Regions from separate parts of the Homo sapiens genome. Here region 1 is linked to region 2. Evidence: fine-mapped expression QTL. A gene starts in region 2. The other region holds a variant in brackets. All regions are shown on one strand. Distances are from middle to middle. Region 1 has its middle 14 kb from the start of ZNF211. Region 2 holds the start of ZNF530 (zinc finger protein 530).

Region 1 (2,919 bases), 47 kb after region 2:
TAACAATTGAGATGAAATTTGCCAACATTTATTTTGGAATCAAAGTCTATTTTCATTATGAATCCTCTGGGATTTTGTAACATAAAGTTTTCTAGTGCAAATACATTGGGATTTATTAGGATTTACTGATAAAGAACTCTCAGTCACATTTTAGTTGTCCATATTATATATTTGGTACATTCTGTGATAACGGAAAGTACAAATAGCACTAATGTTTTGGGGAAGAAAATAGCTACTTGTTGCCTCCTTCCCACAGAACCAGGGCTAGATAATGAGGAGCACATCTCACTAACTGATCACACAGCTGTCTGTAGACATTTGGCCAGGAAGAGCACTGTGGGATGAATCAAACAACCAGGAAATCAGGTGGAGGAGAATCAGAAGAGATGCTACTGTTTGTTTTCAAGTAAATCAGGCTATCTCCAGAAGGATCATCAATCATAGATAAGTGTTTACTTCTAGTGTTACACAGGTAGAACAGAAAGTATGTTAAATTTATATGTATTTGAAAGAAAAATTTAAGCATGAAGTAAAAACTGAAGGAACATTCTAGAAAAGTTTTAGTACACAAAATAAGAGAATGTAATTAAACGGTATTTCACTGTAGATTTCTGCTACTTTGGTCTCACCCATTAAATCCCCTATACCTCACATAGTTGACATGAACAAAGCCATTCATTATTCCACTGGCAAATACTTTCCTGTTATATATGTTCTATTCATTACCTATTCCAACAGCCTCTCATACACATTCACCTTCGAAGGTGATTTCAACAGTTCTCAGCTGGGCGCAGTGGCTCACGCCTGTAATCCCAGCACTTTGGGAGGCCGAGGTGGGCAGATCACTTGAGGTGCACATCATCTGGTGTGCTTAGCATTACTCCATTTCTGATACTGTTAGAAGGCAACTTCTAACTTTGTCAGCTCCAACCAATCCCAAGCTGGCCAAGCACCTATTGGGTCTCTTTTGCTCCTGGAGGCAACATAGTCTCCATTTACAAATACCACTCAGGCCTATTTATTCACCCATCCACAAAACAGCCCACTTTTGGAGGCCTTTACAACAGAAGGCCCTAGAGTCAGTTCAGATGACCATATAACAGACATTTCCTTTAGTGCCTCCTGGAGATTCCTTC[A/ATGGTAGAAGCTC]TGGTGGACTACCCACTAGACTCTCTTCTTAGACTCTGGACCACACATCTGGCCATAAGCTGCCCATGGGCTTCTGGTGCAAAAAACTGCCTGTTTTGTCCTCATGTAACATGCAATTAGAGCAACAACTGCCAGCTACATACTGGGACCTCTTAGAAACAGAAGCTCTCACAGGACCTGAACCATGGCACACTCCACCCAGTTACACATTATTACCTGGGTCATGAAAGCAACACCTACAAGCTCAGCCTGATCACCAAGGCCTTGATACAGGATGGAGCCAAACCTGGGCCCCCTGGTGTATCTCACTTGGAAAAAGAGGTGGCCTTCTCTGTCCTCAGTCTCTTGCCAGATGCCATGGTGAAGGAAGTCTCCTCTCTCCTGGGCCCTTGGCAGCCCTGGAATCAAGTAAGTAAACAACAAGGGGAGAACACATACTTTGTTGACAGTAATGCCACCACTACATGAGCTGGAGCTCTCTGGAGGTCTGCTGCTTTTCTTCTAAACAAGACACACTGCTGAAGGATGGGAACTGCAGGCAGTCATTTTAGCGCTGGAGGCTACCTTGGCCAAGAAATTACCTCAATTACACTTCTAGTCATTTGGTGCAACCAATGGCAACAATTTCTCGTTCAAGATCATACTCTTGGGGTAAACAACTTCAGGAATTTCTTGCCTCTCAGATATCAAAGATATAAATTAAGATCATGTATGTCTCCGCCCACACCAAGGCTCAGACTGCTGAAGCCTAACTTAATTCCCAAGCTGGTAGATTACAACAATTTTCAAAAACTAGGACCAAAACTTTGTTGGATGACCTTCCAGGCCCATTCCTTTATTTTTGGCCCAATAGGCCCATGAAACAACAGTCATAGAGGAACCTCTATGAGGAACCCAATCTTGAAGACTGGGGCTAAACACAAAGTGTTTCCCCACCCCTCTACCATGGCCAACATGATGACGGGTCAGTGCACTCTGTGGGAATACCTGTCATTGGCAAGACAACTGAGGTGTGCTATTCTGGATCCCACTTTTAGTCATGTGGCAGGTAGATTTTACCAGGCCACTGCCTCTGTCTACCAGTGCCACTTGTTATGCTTTGACTGTGGTTGATGCCTACCGCCGACATCTTACTTTACCCCACTAGACATGGCACTGCTGAAGCTACTATACAGCACCACAAAACGCTCCTATTCCCTTTGGAGTTCCCGACAACAGCGGTGAACAAAGCTCTCATTTTAGACAAAGCATTTGAGAGAACTTGCGACATTCCAATCAGTCCCAGGCTGCTGGTTTTATAGAATGCCACAATGGCTTACTTAAAACTTAGTAGAAATTATGAAATAGCATATGGTCTTATAGATGGGTCTTTTTCCTGCCATTAGACCTTATTATACTAAATTCCCAGCTCTATTCCCTGCCAAAATGCACTGAAAACATCTCCATTAGATTTCATTGCCCTCTGTGGTGACACTTCACATAACAGAGCTTACAAAGATCATATTGAACTAGGCATTCCTCCTGTTCTTCCTCTTTCTGCTATCACTTTTCAGTCCCCATCCTGACTGGAAAGAAAGACAGACTGAGGGTGGATTGTGAGTTATGATCCTCATGAATGAATGCCCCTTTGGCTTCCTGCCAGAGCCATCTGGCACCCTGCTAACGTTGAGTCGCCTAAGGCAGGAGTTTTGCCAAATATTCTTGGTTATAAAGGATACTTAATTACAAATGCCCATAATGATCTCACTCAGGAAAGAGAAATCATGGCTCCAAGACCCACAAC
Region 2 (2,919 bases):
AATAGTTGGGAAAACCTTAGTACAGGATATGTCTGTGAGAATGTTTATGGAAGATATTAGCAGTTGAGTCTGTAGACAATGTAAAGGAGATCTGGCCTCATCAGTGTTAGGGGCCAACATCCAATGCTTTGAGAGCCAAGATAGAACAAAAAGGCAGAGAAAGAGCAAGTTACTCTCTTCTTGCCCTGGATCATCCACCTTCTGTTTTCCAACATTAAAGTTCTTGGATCTTGGGCCTTTGGACTCTGGAACATACAAGAATGACCCTCACCCAGTTCTCAGGCCTTCAGCCTCCAACTGGGAATTTCACCATAGGCTCCCTTGGTTTTCAGGCCTTCAGATGCAGACTGAATGATACCACCCACCTTCGTGTCTTACCAGGTTGCAAAAGGTATATCCTGGGACTTCTTAGCCTCCATAACTGGATGAGCCAAGTCCCATAATAAATCCCCTCTTGTACATCTATGTATCCTATTGGTTCTGTGTTTCTCTGGAGAATCCTGACTAATACAATAGGTTTCAGTAATTTTCATTTCACAACTGTTTTTCTAAGATGATCTCAACTCCCCATGCAAGCACTGTCCCTGCAGTAACAGTATCAATGATCAAAATTTCCCATCAAAGAGATGAAAGCTAGGTGTCCCAAACCTTTATTCTGGTATTCTGATGTCCCCTTTGCACAAGTGCTCTGACTGTGAACACTACAGACACTGTTCTACTTTAAAATGGCATATGCTAAGTGGCTCTTCTGTTTAGAAAGTTGCTACAATCCTAAAAGAAGCATATCTAAGAATATGGAGGAAGAAATATTATATGAATACAACACTGTTCCTTACAGGGCTAGACACACTCACCGATTACACAGGCAGGAGAGGCATTTTCTGTGAGACAAAATTCCTCTTTCGTCCTCCAGCTTCGGTGCGATCTAACGGATGTTTTATCATTCCTGTCATGGCGCTATGTAAACTCTATTTCCCTTATTCCTTACTGAGCATAATGAAACTCACAAAGCTGACTCTAACGTTCTACTTTACATAAATGTGTGGAGAAAGAAGGTAATGTTTACTAGGCTCTCGCCAAGGGTAGAGGCATTTTGTATCTGAATAACTCTGACTACCTAGGTGACTAGTTGTACACAATACCCTCCAAAAATCTCTGTATGGTACCTTAAAAAAGCAGCGAAGCTCCTCCCTTGTCCAAGGAGGCTGGAGACACCACCTCTCAGCCTTCCCCTCCACCTTTCTCCATAGCAACGGGGTCATTCCTCCCTGAGGTCCAGGAGAAGGGCGACCTCTGCCAGCCCAAGAAGCGGTGAGAACTACATTACCCAGAGGCCCGTGAGCCAGGTTCTTGGCGTGGAGCCAATGAGGCTCAGGGGAGGGACATTTCCGCTCTGTCCAACTTGTCGGAGCGGAACTTCCGGCGTCCTCCCTGTGGCGGGCACTTTGGCTTGTGTCAGTTCCATCCGCGGGTGCCGGATCTGGACCTAGGTGCTGACAGCGAGAAGGCGCGAGGAGAGTCGTTTTCTCAGCTGCACAGCCGGGGCCTGACGGTCGCCGGCGGTGGTGACAGCTTTGCTCTTGTCTCCGCCCGGATCGTCCACCGCTCCCGGCCCGCTCCGCCCAGAGTCCGATGGCGGCGGCACTGAGGGCCCCGACCCAGGTGAGCGCTGCGTCCTCCCGGCCTCCTCTGCCCTCCCCACCCGAAACTGAGGGACGCGTGAAGGGTTTTCTGCAGCCCGGACCGCACTGTCCGGCACAGTGAGGCGCTGGTGCTGGATCTCGTTTCTGGTAGTGTGGCAGGGAGCGGGAGAGCGACACGGTCAGGGGGCTGCGCGGGCAACAGCTTGGAGCTGCGCCTGAGCCGGGAGGCTGGGGAGACCCAGGCCGGCCTCACGCGTGCAGGTAGCAGAGGGTGGGGCAGCGCCGCGCTGCATTGGCCCCACTGAGTTTCACCAGCACACTGAGGGCCACAGCGCGTAGGACAGAAGAGGGGCACGGCCCCAGTCACGCTTCTAAAAGTTTCACAAAAGCTGTTCAGAGGAACGCGCTGGAAGGGCAGTGATGATAGCAGGCATGGAGGGACCTAGTCTTTTTACGAGGTCACAAAGCTGGTAAAAGTCAGCACCAAGGACTGACACCCAGATACAAAGCAGTCATCCCTGGACACCTGGCTCTGGTGTTCCACATTGGAACCAGAAGTCCATGGAGCCACACTTTGGTCACCTGCCTCTCAGAACATGTTTCCTCCCACAGATTGCCACTAGTACTTACAGGTCCGTAAGAAGCACTTGAAGACCCTACAAGGGTAAGTGGAGGAAATCCAGAAGCTCATTGATTCCAGCAATGGGATCTCTAGGATTGGGACTGTGGTGACCTGGGATTCTTTACTTACCGCTTTTCCAGGCCTTGAGCCTAGGGACTCTGAACAAAAATATGTCCAGGGTGAGTATTATATGAGGTGGTGCCTGTTGCTGGCAAATAATAGGATGAATGTGGAAGTTTGTCCCAGAGATAAGTACAGGTGTTTGGAGCTGCTTGGAGGTGAGGCTGAGCTGGTTAAGAGAACCTCAAGTCTCATTTCCTTCTCATGGGAACAGAGAGCAGAGGTACAGGAGTTAGAAACTAAATGGCTGTCTCAGATGTCTTTGTTCTGGAGATGATGGCAGCAATGAAGATTTGGAGCAGAAGAGGGAGGTGATCTTCCCCAGGCCTCATGAGGCTCCTGTGGCTGAGCACAGACAACAGACTGTGGGTTTAAGGGAGTTGGTAGCAATACCAAAGAGGAAAGAGGAGACTACTGCAATAGTCCAGGTGAGTGTAGATGATGTGGGCCAGAGTAGTGGCCACAGTGTGGCAGAAATGGTTGAATTTTGGATTGTAGGTCGGCTCTGATTTTCTGGTATTGGGACTGAGAGAT

What was found. PIP is the estimated chance that this variant, and not a neighbour inherited with it, causes the effect.
Region 1: its variant is fine-mapped to the expression of ZNF530 in tibial artery (GTEx, PIP 0.98).

The regions. Positions count from the first base shown.
Region 1 is chr19:57,645,756-57,648,674 of GRCh38, forward strand. No RefSeq gene overlaps it. Among named protein-coding and RNA genes, the nearest start is that of ZNF211, 14 kb to the left of the region's middle. The variant A/ATGGTAGAAGCTC (reference allele first, on the strand shown) is at 1,137.
Region 2 is chr19:57,598,473-57,601,391 of GRCh38, forward strand. It overlaps ZNF530 (zinc finger protein 530), which reads left to right and starts at 1,413. Exons shown (of 4, transcript NM_001321981.2): 1 at 1,413-1,662; 2 at 2,256-2,307. RefSeq lists enhancers at 1,461-1,670, 1,761-1,880.